4 separate regions of the Homo sapiens genome follow, and regions 2, 3 and 4 are each linked to region 1. The links come from fine-mapping of genetic effects on gene expression. A gene starts in region 1. Each other region holds a variant in brackets. All regions are shown on one strand. Distances are between the middles of the regions.

Evidence for each region. PIP is the estimated chance that this variant, and not a neighbour inherited with it, causes the effect.
Region 2: its variant is the best candidate, but not a certain one, in a credible set for the expression of TRMT61B in prefrontal cortex (GTEx, PIP 0.88).
Region 3: its variant is the best candidate, but not a certain one, in a credible set for the expression of TRMT61B in pancreas (GTEx, PIP 0.61).
Region 4: its variant is the best candidate, but not a certain one, in a credible set for the expression of TRMT61B in subcutaneous fat (GTEx, PIP 0.69).

Annotation. Positions count from the first base shown.
Region 1 is chr2:28,867,789-28,872,939 of GRCh38, reverse strand. It overlaps TRMT61B (tRNA methyltransferase 61B), which reads left to right and starts at 2,631. Exons shown (of 7, transcript NM_017910.4): 1 at 2,631-3,361. The coding sequence starts at 2,663. RefSeq lists enhancers at 2,289-2,438, 2,669-2,838, 2,453-2,977, 3,607-4,121, 4,122-4,637.
Region 2 is chr2:28,767,642-28,772,792 of GRCh38, reverse strand. The region is part of intron 1 of PPP1CB (protein phosphatase 1 catalytic subunit beta); the gene reads right to left. Among named protein-coding and RNA genes, the nearest start is that of PPP1CB, 18 kb to the right of the region's middle. The variant TG/G (reference allele first, on the strand shown) is at 2,006.
Region 3 is chr2:28,366,998-28,372,148 of GRCh38, reverse strand. No RefSeq gene overlaps it. Among named protein-coding and RNA genes, the nearest start is that of FOSL2, 23 kb to the left of the region's middle. The variant C/G (reference allele first, on the strand shown) is at 2,811.
Region 4 is chr2:28,832,523-28,837,673 of GRCh38, reverse strand. All of the region lies in intron 6 of SPDYA (speedy/RINGO cell cycle regulator family member A), which reads right to left. Among named protein-coding and RNA genes, the nearest start is that of SPDYA, 24 kb to the right of the region's middle. The variant C/T (reference allele first, on the strand shown) is at 3,100.

The DNA.
Region 1 (5,151 bases):
ATACTCAAGAAATAATAAAGTAGGTATGATAACTTTTAAAACCACCATAGGGCTTAGAGTTCAGGAGGTTCCGGCTCAGACCCATGTTTGGCAATGATAATCTCCTTAATTTCAAGAATTTTATAACCAAAAATGAGTTTTTGTCTTAGAAAGCCTATCACAAGAAAAAGTAGTGAGAAAAGCCTACGACTCCAGAAACTATTGGTCATAACTTTTCCTAAAAAGCAAACTACACAAAGTGAGACACGCAGTTGGGGTGTGGAGAGAGCAGTTTCTTTATTCATTTTTAGAATTAGAAGGGAGAAATTTGGCTGGGTGCAGTGGCTCATGGCTGTAATTCCAGCTCTTTGGGAGACTGAGGTGGGTGGATCACCTGAGGTCAAGAGTTCAAACCAGCGTGGCCAACATGGCGAAACCCCGTCTCTACTAAAAATACAAAAATTAGCTGGGTATGGTGGTGCACACCTGTAATCCCAGCTATCTGGGAGGCTGAGGCAGGAGAATTGCTTGAACCTGGGAGGCAGACATTGCAGTGAGCCGAGATCATACAACTGCACTCCAGCCTGGGCGAGAGTGAGACTCTGTCTCACAAAGAAAAAAAAAGGAAAAAAAGAAGGGAGAAATCCTGTTGATGGAGTTTATGGTGGCTGATGTCCTAGAAAGTACTGATTAGAAAGTATTAATTTATGTCTTAGAAAGTAATAACGGCCAGGCGCGGTGGCTCATGCCTGTAATCCCAGCACTTTGGGAGGCCGAGGCGGGTGGATCATGAGGTCAGGAGTTCGAGACCAGCCTGGCCAACATGGTGAAACCGAGTCTCTACTAAAAATACAAAAATTAGCCTGGCATGGTGGCAGGTGCCTGTAACCCCAGCTACTCGGGAGGCTGAGGCAGGAGAATCGCTTGAACCCAGGAGGCAGAGGTTGCAGTGAGCCAAGATCGTGTCATTGCACTCCAGCCTGGGCAACAAGAGCAAGACTCTGTCTCAAATAAAAAAAAAAAAAAAGAATAACAAGATTTATTTCATCAAATTTAAACAGAATTCACATTGACTTCACAGCCCTTTGAATATACTTGGACTTTAAGTTCAACTGTGCTGTTGACCAGTCTTTCCAAACGGTGTTACAGTACAAAGAGCATGGGCTGCTGAACCAGACTGACTAAATAGGAAACTCTGCAATGCCACTTGTCAGCTATGCATCTTGACCAACTTATTATTATTATGTTGCACGTGGGTCTTGAAATCCTGGGCTCAAGCAATCCTCTGGCCTGGGTCTCCCAAAGTGTTGGGGTTACAGGTGTGAGCCACCACTCCTGGTTTCCCCAAATTATTTAATCTCCCTGGGCCAGTTCTTTTACTCATAAAATGGATTTGTTTCTAACACAGAATTGTTGGAAACTTAAATGAGTGTCTAACGTGCCTCGTATTGCCAGACTCTCAATAAACTTTTGCCCAGTCAACTAATATCCAGCAAAGAGGCTAGCGATTTTTCTTTTTTTTTTGAGACAGAGTTTTGCTGTGTCGCGCAGGCTGGAGTGCAGTGGTAGCTCGATCTTGGCCCGCTGCAACCTCCGCCTCCTGGGTTCAAGCTATTCTCATGCCTCAGCCTCCCTTGTAGCTGGTATTACAGGCGTGCACCATCGCGCCCGACTAATTTTTTTCCCCCGAGAGGAGTTTTGCTCAGTCGCCCAGGCTGGAGTGCAGTGCCGAGATCTCAGCTCACTGCAACGTCTGCCTCCCGGGTTCAAGCGCTTCTCCTGCCTCAGCCTCCCGAGTAGCTGGGATTACAGGTGCGTGCCTCCACGCCCAGCTAATTTTTGTATTTTTAGTAGAGACGGGGTTTCACCACATTTGCCAGGCTGGTCCCGAACTCCTGACCTCAAATGAGCCGCTTGCCTCGGTCGGCTTCCCAAAATGCTGGGAGGCTAGTGATATTTAACGCTAAATAACTCTGGCCTCCAAAGATACCTGTTTCCATTTTAAGACACTTCTATTTCGTTTTGGGAGGGTAAACTAGTTATATTTTAATAATGAAAACATGTGTTACATAAGCACATAGTGAGTACTCGAATCAACCTCGGACTCTCCGGGCGTGAGGGGTGGGTGAGGGGACCGGCAGGTGGTCACAGCCCCATCAAAAGGGAGTTGGGGCTGGGGGATGTCGCGGTCAACTGGGAAAGGAGAGCCAATCAGCAAGTGGCGCGTCCCACGCCGTCTGTCAAATGCATCTGGGGGTTAGCTGTACTCATACATCTTGTGGGTGACTAGGTGACTTCCGTGTTCAAGACACAAGCGAGCTAAGCCTGGGATTTCAGTTTGCACAGCGCTTTGTTAAGTTTTGTCTCTCAATCTTGCTGTCCAAGAGCGAACCTGGAGGTCGTCTGTTAGCGGTAAATTCTTTACCCACATTCCGAAAAGGAAAACGGCGGCCGCGCGCGAGGACATATTCCTTGGATGGTCACTCAACCAGGACTCCGCTGCTCCCGCGCCCTAGCTTGACCTAGCGCACCGCCCCCTCCCCGACGCAGGCGCAGTCGCGGAGCTGTAGAGCCCCACGCAGCTGCAGAGCCATCGGGCTGCTGCGCCATGCGCGCGACTGGGAAAGAAGGGGTCGCGCTAGGCTTGCGTCACTCGTCTGCGACGGCGCCTTCGCGAAACACTATGCTAATGGCATGGTGCCGCGGTCCTGTCTTGCTGTGCCTGCGGCAGGGGCTCGGAACCAATTCATTCCTGCACGGCCTGGGGCAGGAGCCCTTCGAGGGAGCTCGGTCACTGTGTTGCAGGTCCTCGCCTAGAGACCTGCGAGATGGAGAAAGAGAGCACGAGGCGGCACAAAGGAAAGCCCCAGGAGCAGAGTCTTGCCCATCTCTCCCTCTGAGCATCTCGGACATTGGGACTGGATGTCTTTCGTCACTGGAAAACCTCAGACTGCCGACGCTGCGGGAAGAGTCATCCCCTCGAGAGCTCGAGGACTCGAGCGGAGACCAGGGCCGGTGCGGTCCCACACACCAGGGATCCGAGGATCCTTCGATGCTCTCGCAGGCCCAGTCCGCTACCGAGGTCGAAGAGCGTCACGTCTCCCCTTCTTGTTCAACTTCCAGAGAGAGACCCTTTCAGGCTGGGGAACTGATTTTAGCTGAGACTGGGGAGGGAGAAACAAAATTTAAGAAATTATTTAGGTTGAACAACTTCGGACTCTTAAATAGTAACTGGGGGGCAGTCCCGTTCGGCAAGATCGTGGGGAAGTTCCCCGGCCAGATACTGAGGAGTTCCTTCGGTAAGCAGTACATGCTGAGGAGGCCAGCCTTGGAAGACTATGTAGTATTGATGAAAAGAGGGACTGCCATAACATTCCCAAAGGTAATGCGATGGAGATAAGGTGTGTATTGGTTTCAGGAGGGGCAAAGACAGATGCAGTACTCAGTCCTGATTAATGTATTCAAAGACATCTCAGAACGTTTGGATTTTTTATTGTACTCAGGCTTTTAAAATAAACCAATGGTTATAACTTTTACATATCATGATGAAAATTAGCATTAGGGAACGGCTAGATTTTAATTTTAACTTAGGAGTCTCGAGTCCCTTATTTGTAAAATGTGGATAATAGCTCAACTTTCTGTTAGGGTGATGTGAACTCACTACGTACATAATAAGTACTAATTTTGTTCCCCATTACTCTTAAGTTTATAACTTCAGGACTCAAGAGAATGTTGAACTCTTAGGGAACAATTTTTTAGTACTACTATGATGATATTTTAATATTCAATAATCATGTTACAAGAGTATATTAACAATAGGTACATTACGGTGCTTTTCCCCTTTTAGGGAAGAAATAGAGTTTTATATTACAATAGCTAACATTCAACACCAAACATAAAATGACTATTCTTTATTAAAAAGTTAACTGCCTAAAGCCTAGTTTCAGTCTTTTTTTTAAGACAAGTTCTCACTCTGTCATCCAGGCTGGAGTGCAGTGTTGCGATCTTGGCTCCCTGCAACCTCTGCCTCCCGGGTTCAAGCGATTCTCCCACCACAGCCTCCTGAGTACCTGGGACTACAGGCATGCACCACCACCCCGGGCTAATTTTTGTAGAGACGGGGTTTCGCCTTATTGCCCAGGCTGGTCTTCAACTCGTGGCCTCAAGTGATCCGCCCACCTCGGCCTCCCAGTGCTGGGATTACAGGCGGGAGCCACCGCGCCCAGCCCTAGTTTGAAGCTTATGCTAATCATCTATTGCTAGCAGATTATTTCAATCCTTAGTCACAGTCCTTGAGTAGAATGTTCCTGTGTAACACAACTCCTCCTCCTTTCTCCAGATCAGGATTCATTCGTTATTTATTCAGCAAATTGACTGCCTTCCATACTCAAGGCACTGTTTAGGGAAGTATAGTGTTGAACTGCAGTCCTCACCCTCAACATAGACCTTACATTCTAGAAGGGGTGACAAAGAACAAACAAGTAAATGAAAGAATAAGGTCATTTCCAGTAGTGTTAAGTGTCATGAAGACAAATATATTAACAATGACATTGTTTTGGGTGACCTGGGGTATGAGCATACTTTATGTCAGGTGAGGAGAGATGGTCTCCAAGGAGGTACACTTGATAGGAAACCTAAATAAGGAAGAGCTTGCCTTGTAAACAGATCTAGGAAGAGAATTGTTCTTGCAAAGGGAGGAATGCTGCAGAGTTTCTGTTGTGGCCTCAATGGGTCAGATGAGGGACCCCGTATGAGGTGTGGTTTGAGTATTTTATTCCATTTGTAGTGAAGGACCATTAGAAGGTTCTTAGTAGGAATCCAGTCTGTATTTTAAACGGTCTACCCAGGGACTAAAAAAACTTTCCTCAGAAACTTAGGCTACTGAGGTATAATAAGCTTTTTTTGTTTAAAGACAAGGTCTTGCTATGTCACCCAGGCTAGAGTGCAGTGGCTCAATCACCTCTTACTGTAGCCTGAACCTCCCAGGCTCCAACAATCCTCGCACCTCAACCTCCTGAGTAGCTGGGACCACAGGTGCATGCCACTATGCCTAGCTAATCAAAAATTTTTTTTGTAGAGTTGGGGTCGCCCTAACTTGCCCAGACTGGTCTCAAACTTCTCTAGGCTCAAGGGATCCTCCCTTGAGGGTGCTGGGATTACAGGTGAGAACGA
Region 2 (5,151 bases), 100 kb after region 1:
ATTTCAGATTTCAGATTATCAGATTACGGATGCTTAACTGGTAAGTATAATACAAATACTCAAAAATCTGAAAAAAATCCAAATTCCAAACACTTGGGGTCCCAAGCATTTTGGATAAAAAATATTCAACCTGTATTCCATTCTATGAACATATGACAATATCTTTACTACTCTATTTGGATTATTTCCAGTTTGGGGCTATTACAAATGCTATGAATATCCATGGGCATATTTATCTTAGGTATGTATAGAACAAAGCAGTAGAACTGCTCGGGTCAGTTTATTTCATTAAGTAGTAGATACCATCAGTTTCCCAAAGTGGCTATACCAATTCATAATCCTCCTAACACTGTTGGTCCATATCTTTACTGATACTGCAAATTATCAGTATTTTTAATTTTAGTCATTTTGTTGGGTATATGGTGGTATTCGTTGGATTTAATTTGATTTCCCCGAGGACCAAGGTTGTCAAGTACCCTTTTTTTTCTTTTTGAGATGGAGTCTCGCTCCGTCACCCAGGCTGGAGTGTAGTGGCAAGATCATGGCTCACTGCAACCTCCACCTCCCGGGTTCAAGGATTCTCCTGCCTCCTGAGCAGCTGGGATTACAGGTGCACACCACCATGCCCAGCTAATTTTTGTAGAGACAGGGTTTCACCATGTTGCTCAGGCTCATCTCGAACTCCTAACCTCAAATAATCTCCCCGCCTTGGCCTCCCAAAGTGCTGGGATTACAGGCGTGAGCCACTGCACCTGGCCATTGAGTATCTTTTTCATGTGCCTAATAGACCCTTTAGGTTATCTTTTTTTTTTTTTTTGGACAAGTTCGTTTTAAGTCTTTTGTTCATTCTTTAAAACTGGACTTTTTCCATCTCTTCATGCTATCTTTTGATGAACAGAAGTTCTTTAATGAATTTAAATCTTAAAAAATCTTAGTCAATCTTTTTTTGGTTAAGGCCTTTTGCATCTTATTCAAGAAATTCTTGCCTTCTCTAAACATATTTCCTTATGTTTCCTTCCAGATATTTTATTGTTTTAGCCCACTTCATTCTATAACCCATCTCAAATTAATTTTGTGTATGGTTTGATGTAAAGGTCAAGGTTTTTATCTAAGCAGATACCCAGTTGATTCAGCACCATTTATCATAAAGATCATCCTTTTCCCCACTGAACCGCAATGGCAGCTTTGTAGAAAAATCAGGTGACCATACAGGAACAGGTCTGTTTTTAGCCACTATATAGCTCATTACCCCATTTGTCTATTTTTGCATCAATACCACAATGTCTTAATTACTATGGCTTTTTATAAAGTCTCGGTATCTAGTAATATAAACATCCCAATTTTGTTCTTTAGATTTTCCTTTTGAACTTTCAAATGTTTTAAAATTGGCTTGTGTCTAGCCCCTCCACCCCCAAACTTGTGAGGTGTTAAATTGGGAATAAGGCCGAGTACAGTGGCTCATGCCTGTAATCCCAGCACTTTGGGAGGCCGAGGTGGGTGGATCACCTGAGGTCAGGAAGAGACCAGCCTGGCCAACATGGTGAAACTCCGCCTCTACTAAAAATACAAAAATTAGCCAGGCGTGATGGCAGGTGCCTGTAATCCCAGCTACCCAGGAGGCTGAGGCAGGAGAATCGCTTGAACCCAAGAGACAGAGGTGGCAGTGAGCCACGATCGTGCCACTGCACTGCAGCCTGGGCAACAAGAGTGAAACTCTGCCTCAAAAAAAAAAAAAAAGGGTGGGGGGGGGGGAGCAGGGAATAAGTAGGTAAGTCTAGACAGAATTGGTATCTTCACAATTTCAAGTCTTCCAATCCACAAATATGGTATCTCTCCTTTTATTTATTTCTCTCAGCAATGTTATATACTCTAGTATGGCAGTCTTTCACGTTTTTCATTAAATGGATTTTGGCTGACATCTGTGATGTCATTTCTTTCAAATGTACTGAGGGGTGCTTTATGGTATAGCATATGGTATATTTTAGTAAATGTTTCATACATATTT[TG/G]AAAAGCATATATATCCTGAAATTATTGAGTGAAGTGTTCTATGTCCGCCAAGTAGGTCAGGGTGGCTGTGTTGTTCAAATCTTTATCCTCGCTGATTTTTTCCTGTTTGTTCTACTAGTTACTGAAAGAGGGGCACTGATCTATGGTTGTGGTTTTGTCTATTTTAACTTTTTATAATAGTTGTCAACCTTTCCTTTTAGTTTTAGACCTATACTATTACATATATAAAAATTTTAGATATTTTTCCATTAAATTTATCCTTTTAGCATTATATAATGCCCTTCTTTACCTCTAGTGTTATTTCTGGTTTTAGAGCTTTTTCCAACATAAATATAGCCAAGTCAGCTTTCATTTGATTAATGTGTGCATGATATCGTCTCCCCCACACCCCCCTCCCCCCCCCCTTTTTTTTACTTCCTCATTTGTGTCCTTAGATTTAAAATACATCCCTTGTAAACAGTATCTATAATAGTTAGGTCTTCTGAGCTTTGCATTAATTTCAATGTTTGCTCCTTTTCTTTTTGAGATGGAGTCTCACTCTGTCACCCAGGCTGGAGTGCAGCGGCATGATCTCAGCTCACTGAAACCTTTGCCTCCCAGATTCAAGCGATTCTCCTGCCTCAGCCTCCTGAGTAGCTGGGATTACAGGCACCCACGCCCAGCCAATTTTTGTATTTTTAGTAGAGATAGGGTTTCACCATGTTGGCCAGGCTGGTCTTGAACTCCTGACCTCAAGTGACCTGTCCGCCTTGGCCTCCCAAAGTGCTGGGATTACAGGTGTGAGCCACGGTGCCCAGCCAATATTTGCTCCTTTTACATTTAATATAATCATCGACGAAGTTGAGTTTAAGTCTACCATTCTGTCATCTGTTCTGTTTGTCCCATCTGTTCTTCATTCCTCTCTCTTTCCCTGCATTTCTTTGGAGTAATCAGTTATTTTTTTACTATTCCATTTTCTCCTCTATTAGCTTTTCGTTATATATTCTTTTTTCATTTAGAGGTTGCTCTAGAGATTACAAATACACTTTTGACTGATTACCACCCGCCTCCAGCCTTTTGTTCTACAGTTGTCGTATTTTTGTTTCCACATATTTTAAATCCCACAAGCCACAACTATTATTTTAAACAGTCAGAATTTGTATTTACTCACATTTATCCTTACCATTGTTCATTTCTTTCTGCAGTTCTTTGCTTTTATCTGTTATTTTCTTGCAACACAAAGAACTTGCTTTAATATTCTCTAGTGTCAGCATATCAGCAATATATTTTCTGAGCTTTAGTTTGTCTTCATTTTACTTTACTATTGAAGGATATTCTAGATTTAGAATTCTAGACCAGCCTGACCAAGATGGAGAAACCCTGCCTCTACTAAAAATACAAAATTAGCCAGGCGTGGTGGCACATGCCTGTAATCCCAGCTACTCGGGAGGCTGAAGCAGGAGAATCGCTTGAACCCGGGAGGCAGAGGTTGCAGTTAGCCAAGATCACGCCATTGCACTCCAAGCCTCGGCCACACGAGCAAAACTCCATCTCAAAATAAATAAAGAATTCTAGGTTGTCATTTTTTTTCTTTCAGTGCTTTAAAGAGAACACCATTCTATTGTCTTCTGTCTTCCACAGTTTCAGGTGATAGATCAGCCATCATTCATATTATTGTTCCCTGAAGATAATGAATTTTTTCTTCTGACAGCATTTAACATTTTCTCTTTCTCTTGGATTTCTAGCAGCTATGTTCAATATGGTTTTCTCTCTATTTACCCTGCTTGGAATCACACAGCTTCTTTAATATGTGCTTGGATATCTCTGTTTTGGAAAATTATTAGTCAATATTTCCATCCCATTGTATGTCTATCTCCTCTCTTTCTGGGATTCCTATTATACATGATAGACCTTTCCACTGTCTATCAGCAATACATAAGTCTCTCATGCTTTCTTCTGTACACTTTTTTTTTTCTGTCAGCACTAGATAATTTCTATTGGTTTTTGGTCAATTCAGTTTCATTAGCTTGTCCAAAACAGCATATCCTATTTTGGTGAATGAAATACTGAATTATGGATACAAAATTGTAGAAGTTTTAGATAATACCTTTCTCCAAAGAAGGCTGTTTCCTTTTAGCAGCAGCACAGCAGTAACTCATTTTCCTGAGGGCTGGTCTGTTTTAGTTTTGCCTTCAATCTTAGGCAGTGGTCATGATGGGGCCACAGTGGAAAACTCAGGGTGTAATAAGGCCCCTCTAACTTGGCAGGATTTGAACTTCCATTTTTGCCTCTCTGGCATTAGATACTGAAATGTCTGCTCAGATCTTTAGCTTTTCAGCTACTGTTTTCTGCTGGGTTTCTTCTCTTGCTTATGTGTACCTCTGAAGTCAGTCAATGACTTTAGAGGGACCTGACTGCAGATTTTGAGGTTAGATTTTATGTGGTTCTCTCCTCTCCTGGACTTAAGCTTCAATTGCTTTAGTGGCCCCAAACTTCCACCTTTCTTCCTTAGCCCAGTGAGACCGTCACTTTTTATTTGGGATCTATTTCCCCTATGCCACAAACTAGGAAATGTCTCCAGGGAAAAAAGCCAGGGTGACTGGTGAGCTCACACTATACGCTTCCCTTGTCAAAGATCAAAACCCCTCAACAATTTTCTGTGTTGGCTGCCTCTTCAACAATGGAATGGCTGCCGAGAGGCACACAAAATGTGATTATGCATACACTAGAAATTCAGGTGATTACATTAAAAAAATTGAGGAATGACTTGTCAAGGACTAGACACCATGGCTCCTAATCCCAATTTATTTCACCTGACTTAATCAGTCACACAACTTTGGTGGGAGCACCAAGGTTTCCTGACTTCCAGTAAGGTTATCTTTCTACAATCATGTTTACATTAGGAAAGGCAGAAAAACTACACCAGTATTCAGCAAACTAAGGCCAAGGGGTCAAATCTAGCCCAATGCCAGTGTTTGCATGGCTAGGGGCCTAAGAATAATTTTTTACATTTTTTAAATGATTGCAAAAAAGCAAAACAAAAGAATCCTCTGTGACATATAAAAATTATATGAAACTCAAATTTTGGTGGCCATAAAGTTTAATGAAGCATAGCCACTTATTTATCACTGGACACATTCATGCTACAATGGCAGAGCTGAGCAG
Region 3 (5,151 bases), 500 kb after region 1:
CCCTACCCCACCACAGGCCCCGGTGTGTGATGGTCCCCACCCTGTGTCCAAGTGTTCTCATTGTTTAATTCCCACCTATGAGTGAGAACATGCGGTGTTTGGTTTTCTGTCCTTGTGACAGTTTGCTCAGAATGATGATTTCTAGCTTCATCCATGTCCCTACAAAGGACATGAACTCATCCTTTTTTATGGCTGCATAGTATTCCATGGTGTATATGTGCCACATTTTCTTAACCCAGTCTATCACTGATGGACATTTGGGTTAGTTCCAAGTCTTTGCTATTGTGAATAGTGCCGCTGTAAACATACGAGTGCATGGGTCTTTATAGCAGCATGATTTATAATCCTTTGGGTATATGCCCAGTAATGGGATGGCTGGGTCAAATGGAATTGCTAGTTCTAGATCCCTGAGGAATCGCCACACTGTCTTCCACAATAGTTGAACTAGTTTACAGTCCCACCAACAGTGTAAAAGTGTTCCTATTTCTCCACATCCTCTCCAGCACCTGTTGTTTCCTGACTTTTTAATGATCACCATTCTAACTGGTGTGAGATGGTATCTCATTGTGGTTTTGATTTGCATTTCTCTGATGGCCAGTGATGGTGAGCATTTTTTCATGTGTTTTTTGGCTGCATAAATGTCTTCTTTTGAGAAGTGTCTGTTCATATCCTTCGCCCACTTTTTGATGGGGTTGTTTGATTTTTTCTTATAAATTTGTTTAAGGAGAATGGCATTTAAAAATTGAGATCTGGGGCTTTCTAGCTTACTGCTACTGGGGTATCATTGCCTCGTAGTAATTGCCTCTAATCAACAGCATCGGTTGTCAGTTCCAGAATGATGTTAAACAATAGTGGCAAATCCTGGCATCCTCTTCTTGTGCCTGAGTTGAACATCAATATCCCTCGTGTTTCAGCATCACGCATGGTGCTGCCTATTGGTCTGACACAGGTATTTTTTAATCACATCAAAGAAGCATACTTCTATTTCAGTTTTACTAAGAGATTTTTTTTAAAGCAGCTATGTTGGATGTTATATGTTTCTTGGCATCTATCTAGATAGTCAAATTGTTTTTCCTCTTTTGACCTATTAATGGGAATTATAGTACAAAGTTCAACAGTATTAATCATGCTTGCTTTCCCTGAATAAACTCTATTTGAGCAGGATGTATTTTTATAATATAATGTTTGATTCATTGTGCTAATATTTCACTTAGAAATTGTGCGCTTAACAGTCCCAAGTGAAAAGAACCTAGCATTCCCTTTTTTATCATTGTGTTCAGATGCTGGCATTGGAGGTGAGGTGGAAATAGAATACAAGTGAATGTGTAACAGAACTGAGAGACTGGGGGCCATGGAGGGAGGGAAGGAGGAGCAGTGGGGAGAAAGGAGGTGGTAGTCCCTGCAGGCCTAAGGGAGAGTTGGGTGCACAGGAAGGTACAGTCTGAAGGGGGATTTTAAGAATGGAGCCCTTCCAGGTGGGGACAAGGCTCAGATTTTGGCCAGGGAGTGGCTTGCTGAGAGAAAGCTGAAAGTCCACAGGATTGCAGAGGTCAAGAAGCTGTAGGCAAGGGTACTGGATGGGTTGCCTGCCAGGGTGTCGAAATCTTCCCAGGTGGTGGCCCAGAGGCTGGCTGAGTCAGTGCCATGGCGAGTGGGGTCATGACTTGGAGGCCAGTTGGGGGATTACAACTTGGAAAGGAGAAGGGAAAAGCCCCCAAAGTGGGAGGCAGCTTGTTTTTCTTTTTCTTTTTCTTTTTTCTTTTTTTTCTTTTTTTTTTTTGAGACACAGTCCGGTTCTGTTGCCCAGGCTGGAGTGTAGTGGCACAATCTCTGCTCACTGCAACCTTGGCCTCCCAGGTTCAAGCGATTCTCCTGCCTCAGTTTCCCAAGTAGCTGGGATTACAGCCCTGCACCACCATGCCCAACTAATTTTTGTATTTTTAGTAGAGATGGGGTTTTGCCATGTTGGCCAGGCTGGTCTCAAACTCCTGGCCTCAAGTGATCCACTCACCTCAGCCTCCCAAAGTGCTGGGATTACAGGCGTGAGCCACCGTGCCGGCCTATTTTTGTTTGTTTGTTTTTTGTCTTTTGTTTTTTTTTTTTTTGAATGAGGGTGAAATAGCCTGATACAGACCAGTGTGGAGCTGGAGAGAGCCACCCTGTCCTCTCCTCAGCTCAGGTGAGGACGTGAGAGCCAGGGGAGCTGAGAGCCCTGCTCCTGGAGGCCAGGGATTGGGGAAAACAAAGTGGCCAGGCCGCAGAGCTAGGACGGCTGGAACCGCTGCTGAAGGAGGGGCAGCTGTTCTATCCCAACCCCGGGACCAATTCAGTTAAATGAGTTCACAGATGTAAAGCACTTAGTGCCTGGCACTGAGCAAATCTAGTAGCACTGTTATTATTAATTTGTACAAAGTAATTAAATGTTTTTCAAGTAATGCTAAAAGGCAGTTCCAGACACTGCCCATGAAATGTGATTGACACATTCTGCTACAGGCAGGCAAGATGATCTTTCCCCCACTTTCCCCACTCTCGTTCTCATTTACAGTTCCTTCTGGCAGCCTTTCATATCAGCCAGGCCCTGGCTCAAAGCTCAGAGGCCACACTGACAAGTGGCACGGACTCGGGCAAACTTGGGCCTCATCTGTAAAATGGGTAACGATGCCTCCTGGAGTTGGAAAGGGCATCTGTGCTATGGTCCCCTGAGCTATGTTCCAGCCGGCACCCTGAGCCCAGGATCACCAGTGCCACAGAATTGGTTGCTGCTCAGAGGCTGAGCAGATCCCAGGAGCAGAAAAGGGAAGAGAGAGGGG[C/G]AGCCCCAGCTGGGTTCTGGAATCCCACAGCCCAGGCAGAGGAGCAGGAAGGAAAGGAGATAGGGAGAGGGCTTTTCATTCCACAGAGGCGGTAATTCATCATGTCTTAAGATCCAGGAATATAATCCAGACACTGGGAACTCCAAGGCTCAGGAGCAGAGAAAGGCTAAGTTCCTTCACCTGTGGTTAGGTGGGTGGTCTCTGCAGTTCCCCATTTAAACTGGGAACTAAGAAACCAGCCACTACCAAGTGCCTCTATCTGGCCCATTTCTGGCCATGGTCTTAGTCCCAAAGGCCCTTCTAGGGGCCTTGGGTGGTCACTGGCCCTTCCCAGGGTCCCTGGCGGGGTTCCCGCTCCCCCGAGTAGACTGCTCACTCCTCAAGGGATGGAGCCGGCAGGAAAAGCTGGGGTGAACTTGGGGGCTTGTCCTAAAAACGCCTCATCACAGAGCTGGAAGGGACAGAAAGGAGGGCCAGGTTGGAGCTTCTTGCACTTACTGTGAGGCTCTCCCAGGGGGCCTTCATCCTGGTGCGCTGCTGGGCAGGTAATGATGAAGATACGAACATTCATTCACACCTGTCCCAGGTCTCATTTCACAGGTGAGAAAACTGAAGCTTGCAGAGTTAAATGTACCAAACCTAATAGAGGTGGTGAGTGTCAGAGCAGGATTCGAACCCACATCTTCAGAGTCCCGATGCCTGTGCGCTGGCCCCCTCCACGTGCAGTGCACAAGTATTGAGTGAGTGGGGTGAGCCCAGCTCTGGCCAGGTGTTGGGGAGGGGTCAGGCAGGGCCAGAGGGTACATGGTGTAGAACGAAGAGGCTGGATTGCAGGGGACACACTGGACTCTCAGTCTCAGCTCAACTACACCATCAGGGGCCTCAGCGAGTTACTTAACCTCTCTGCCCTCGGGTGCCCATGGTGGAAAATGGGAATAACAGTTCTGGCAGAGAGATGCGGAGAGGAGTAAGTCAGAAAATGTAGGTATAACCCAGATATCAGCGGGGGACTCCCAGCTTCCTGAGGTCTAAGCATGATGAATGTGAACCCCCATGCCAGGGGCGGAGGAACCCAGGGCCCTCCCCAGGATTTCTTCTGGTCCCCTAGAATGGCAGTGCGGTGGGGCTTAGGTTCCGGGGGTCCTCAGCCTCTAGGCCCTGCTTCTGCATTTCTCTCTGTGCCACCCTGTGATAACCCAGGTGCAGCGTCTATCCCTCCCTCTCTTCCCATTCTGGAGCGGAGAGCAGGTGGGGGCCTTCACTGCACCGTGGATAGGGAAACAGCTTCTCCTGGAACACAGCACGTTCAGGTTCTTCACATGCCCTTCAGTCAGTCGCTTCACTGGGGACTTTGGCCTCCCCACTGCACAGTGCCAAAGTCCCAGCCGCCGCCTCTCACAGCCCTGGCCCTGCCACCCCTCTCTCCCCCTCACCCCTGCTCTCCCTGCTGTGTTCTCCAGACTCCTCTCCCTTTGTTCAGGCAGCCCATGGGGCCTCCCATCTCCTCTGCCGACTCCTCTAGACCCCTCTCTGCACATCCAACCCAGCCGGGTGCTCGCAGGGCAAAATGATCTTCATGGAAGCCACCTTCTTAGACAGCAGTCTTGGTTATAAAAAATAAAGGCAGGGGCTGCGCGCGGTGTCCCACGCCTGTAATCCCAGCTACTCGGGAGGCTGAGGCAGGAGAATCGCTTGAATCTGGGAGGCGGAGATTACAGTGAGCCAAGATCGCGCCACTGCACTCCAGCCTGGGCAACAGAGAGAGACTCTGTCTCAATGAAGAAATAAATAAAGGCAAGGAGGACACGCGTGGAGTGAGCTGCCTCCCCATCCCTGCTTTCGATCCTTATGGGCAGCCTGCCCTTAAGAAGTGCACGCGGGCCGTGTGGTAAAACCAATTCTTGTGTTGTGCTCTGCGAAGACCATTTGGGAAAAAAATATTGCTCTGAGGGGCTCGATGCAAACTCAGGGAGAGGAGCGATTTAGGGAAAACAAATAAGCAACTCAGGTTTTGCCCCCACTGACAACTCACTATGTGACCTCCTTACCTCAGGGGCCTGGACTTTCCAGTCACCTGTGATATGGGAAAGGGGGGTGGGATCGAACCAAGCGGCCTCCCAGGGCCCTTCTGGCTGTCACTTCCTGGAGAAGCCCTGGGAGGAATGACAAGCCCCATGTCCCCCTCAGCCAAGTCACTGCCCTACCACTGCGGCTTGTAGCAGCCGGGCAGCCCCTGCCCTCGGAAAGTGTGCGTGAAGCCAGATGCAGGCAGAGAGGCTGGGACCCTCGCTAGGCAGAGGAGCGTGGCCTGAGCTGGGGGCCTGCATTGCACATGAGGAAG
Region 4 (5,151 bases), 35 kb after region 1:
GAAGAAGTCACTTAACCTCTCTGTTCCTTAGTTTCTTATCTGGGATTACCTAGCTAGATCTAAGAATTGTGAGAGTTAATAATACATGGGCAATACTTAGAACAGTGCCTGGAAAGTTCTTAAAAAGTATTAATATTACTTTGACCTTGAATCTCTTAAATACTCGAAGCATCATTTATACGTAATGACTTTTACCATACCTGTTGACCATTCATTTAATTATATCCAGTTACTGCCTTACATTCATGTCTATATACCAAATTCCTTATCTTCCCAAAGAATCCAGTTTGCTTCTGTAGGCTTCCCTATTTCCATTATGGAACCCATTACTCTTCCTGTTATATATATTTGAAACTTACAGTTCCCTCTCCCATGTACCCTATATCCAACTGGTTACCAGGTAATGATAATTATAATTTTTTAACATTTCTAACATCTGTTTCATTTTCTTCAGCACTGCTATCAATTTTCTTCACAACCTTGTTTCCAGCTATAGCAAGTTTAGCAGTTTCCAATACATTCCCTATATTGGATCTCTTTTGCATACTGTCATTGGATTATTCTGTCAAAACACACTACTTATCTCATTGCTTTCTAAATTCCTAATCTGGAATCAAGTAATAGATAGTGAAGAACTCAGCTATGATGATATTGTGGCATCTTGGCCAGAGTATTAACGGGAATAGAGAAAAACTTCTTGATTAAATTGCTACCCTCCATGATGCATGAAAGGGGCTGGAAGTGTAGTCTAACTCTCTCATTAGATAGGCATCCTCCCTAATGTGTGAACCAGTTTAGAAATTAAGCCATCACCAATGTAAATAAATCCCACCTTAAAGGAGTTGTTGATAAGATCATCAGGTAAGAAGATAAAATCAGAATAAACAAAGAAATAGTCCACTCTTTTCTGGAGAAGCCCTATATATATTTTCCAATTTAATCACAACCCATCTCTTTCCAAAAAGGAATGAGGCAGCTGAGAAAAAAGGGGAAAAAATTTCATTGAGCTTAGACCCAAAAGGGAAATTTCGACTAAAAGGGGAAAGCAGACATGCCAGTAATAAAATGTAATAGAGTTGATGTGGTCAAGGATAATACCTGGCTTTTAGCTTCTTTGCAGCCAAGATTAAAAAAAGAAAAGAGACAATTACAAAACTCACTATTTGAAAAGACAGCACATGTTCTTTCTTATGTCAGTGGTGTATAATTCAAAGAGCACTAAGTTATTAGTATCTGCTACTTATTAACTTCATGGCCATGGACAAATCACAATCTTACTAAGCCACAGTTTTTGCATCTGTGAAATGGAGGGAATACTGCGGCTATTTAATTCCCAAGACAAGAAATAAATGCATTTTCTAAACTAACCAATATGAGAGGTTTATATGGAGGCTAGATGTCACAGAAAAAAGAGAACACTAGGAAGTCATTAGATGTTCTGGCTCTGCAACTTCTATGATTTTGAGTAAATCCCAGCCTCCTCGGTCCTCAGTTTCATTAGCTGTGAAATGAGGATGCCACCACCCCCACAGCTATTTGTGTGATAATTTCTGTAAAAGTCATAATTTGTAAAGCACTGTGCAAATGTAAAGTATTATTATTATAAGCTAGTTTGTAGCTACTATCTTAACTTGAGGTTATTTTAGGATATGGGACTAAAGAAATGTTTCGTTTGGCAGTATGCCAGGCTTTCAGTAACAAATGTATAGAACAGTTACATTTTCAACAGTATGTCTTGCTATTTCAGGAATGGGAATGGGGTGATATAATACTTCTTTACAATAAACTCCCAGGGCACTGAACTTGGTGTGTTATTCATAAAGTAGTTGTCCAGTGAACACTTAACAGAACAGGATAAAATCTACTAGGCAGTTACCTTTTCTATACGCCTACAGGATTCAAATGTACCTTGTTGGAACAGCCAAAAAACAGCTTCTCTATCTGCCACTGGAGTAAGCGGCAGTGCAAAGTGAGCTCAGTGAATAATTATTTTATAGTTTATTGTTTCCCTATTTAATGGATAAGAAGGTATGAAAAAGAATTGGAAGTTCCATTCATTTGATCAGTCAACAAATATTTATTGACTACCCACTATGTGCCAGGCACTGTTCTAGGCTCTGGAGATAGAATAAGAACAAAATAAGGCTGGGCGCTCATGCCTGTAATCCCAGCACTCTGGGAGGCTGAGGCAGGTGGATCACTTGAGATCAGGAGTTTGAGACCAGCCTGGCCACCATGGTGAAAACCCTGTCTCTACTAAAAATACAAAATAGCCGGGCGTGGTGGCGCATGCCTGTAATCCCAGCTGTAATCCTAGCTACTTGGGAAGCCGAGGCAGGAGAATCGCTTGAACCCAGGAGGTGGAGGTTGCAGTGAGCCAAGATCACGCCATTGCACTCCAGCCTGGGTGACAGAATGAAACTCTGTCTTAAAAAAAAAAAAAAAAAGGTCAGGCACTATGGCTCACATCTGTAATCCCAGAACTTTGGGAGGCCAAGGTGGGAGGATTGCTTGAGCCCAGGAGTTCAAGGTTGCAGTGAGCTACGATTGCACACTGCAGCTGGCAGCCTGGGTAACAGAATGAGACCCTGTCTCAAAAACAAAAACAAAACAAAACAAACAAATGCAAAATAAAGACCCTGCTCTCTTGGAATCTGTATTTTAGTGGGAGGAAATTTATTAACAAGATAAATAAGTAAAAAGCAGTCTGTTACATGATGGTTGAGTGCTATGAGGAAAATTGGAACTGAGAAAGGGAATACAGAGTAATAGTGGGAGGAACTACTTTTAATTTTAACAGCTTTGAAATGTAATTAAAATACCTTAGAATCACCCAATTGAAATGTACAATTCAATGATATTCAATATATTCAGAGTTAAGCAACCATAACCACGGTCAATTTTGAAGCATTTTCATCACTCTATATATAAAGCAATCACACTCCATTTTCTCCCTTCTCTCAGCCCATAACAACTACTAATCTACTTTCTGTCTTTGAATTTGTCCATTCTGGACCTTTCATATAAATGGAATCATACAATATGTCGTCCTTTGTGACAGGCTTCTTTTATGTAGCATAATCTTTTCAAGGTTATCTG[C/T]GTTGTAGCTTGAACCAGGTACTTCATTCCTTTTAATTGCCAAGTAATATTTTATTGTAGGGATATACCTTATTTTGTTTATCCATTCTATCAGCTGATGGACATTCAGGTTGTTTGTACTTTGGCTATTATGAATACTGCTATGAACATTCATGTTAAAGTTTTTTGTGTGGACATAGTTTTGTTTTTACCCTTTGGCATATATAGCCAGGACTAGACTTGCTGGATCATATGGTAACTCTATGTTAACCTTGTGAGGAATTGCCAGACTGTTATGCAAAGCAACTTCCCCATTTTACATTTCCATAAGAAGTGTATGAGGGTTCCAGTATCTCCACATCCTCTTCAATACTTTTATTTTTGTTTTGTTTATAGCCATCATAGTGGGTGTGAAGTAATATCTCATCGTGCTTTTGATTTGCAATCCCTGACAGCTAATGATGTTGAACATCTTTTCAAGTGTGTGTGTGTGTGTGTGTGTGTGTGTGTGTGTTTTAGCAATTTGCATACCTTCTTTGGAGAAATGTCTATTTGGATTATTTGCCCATTTTTTAAATTGATTGTCTTTTTATTATTAAGTTGTAAAGCTCTTTATATTTCTAGATACAAGACCCTTATCAAATAGATGACTTGCAAAAAATTTTTTTCATTTTATAGGTCATCTCTTCACTTGGTATCCTTTGAAGGACAAAAGGTTTTAATTTTGATGATGTCTATTTTATATTTTCTTTTGTTACATGTTACTTTTGGTATCATGTCTAAGAAACCTAATTCAAGGTCACGAAGACTTACCCCTATGTTTTCTTCTAAGAGTTTTATGGTTTTAGGTTTTACATTTAGGTCTTTGATCCATTTTGAGTTAATTTTTATATATGGTATAAACCAGAGGTTCGGCTTCATTCTTTTGCTTGTAGATATCCAGTTGTCATAGCACCATTTGTTGAAAAGACTACATTTTCCCCATTGAATTTTCTTGGCACCCTTGTCAAAATTCAATTGAACATAATTGTGACGGTATATTTCTGGACACTTCTATTCCATGGAGGGAGATACTACTCTATATAAGGTGATAAGGAAAGGTCTCTCTGAGGTGACATTTAAGCAGAATCCTGAACGTAGTTAGGAAGTGAAGCATACTGATATTTGGGGAACAACATTCCAGGTTATGGGAATAGTAAGTGCAAAGACCATGAGATGGGAGTGTAACTGGTATCTTTGAGGTAAGGAGGCCGGTGTAGCTTGAGTGGAAGAGCAAAGATATGAGATGAAATCAAAGAGATAAGGGAGGAGGGCTGATAGACCATGTAGGACCATGACAGGGACTTTCTCTTTTACCCTATGTAAGGCTGGAAGACACTGGAGGCTTTTGAGTAGAGAAGTCATGATTTGACTTACCTAAAAAAAAAATTACTCTGGCAGCTGTATGAAGAATAGATTATAGCTGCATATGGTGGCTCACACCTGCAATCCCAGCACTTTGGGAGGCCAAGGTGGGAGGATTGCTTAGGCACAGGATTTTGAGACCGGCCTGGGCAACATAGCGAGACCCCATCTCTACAAAAAATAAATTAGCTGGGCATGGTGGCACATGCCTGTAGTCCCAGCTACTTGGGAGGCTAAGGCAGGAGATCGCTTGAGTCTAGGAGGTTAAGGCTGCAATGAGCCATGATCTCACCACTGCACTACTGCCTGGGTAACAGAGTAAGACCCTGTCTTTAAAAAAAAAAAAAAGGTGGGGGTGGGAGAGACTATTTGGAAACTTATGCCAGTAATCAAGGCAAGAGGTGACAATAAAAGTATAGTATTAGTGGTGGAGGTGGTGAGAAATGGTAGGATGCTGGATATTTTTTCAAGGTACAAATATAAGAAAAAGAAGGGTAAATGGAAATAATTTTTTGGCCTGAGCAACTAAAACAATAGAGTTGCTACTTATGAATATGTGGAAGACTGCAGGAGGAGCAAATCTGGAGGTCTGTGTCAAGGAGTCAGGAGTTCAATTTTAGGCACGTTAAGTTTGAGGTATCAATTAGACAAAAAATACCAACAGGCGAT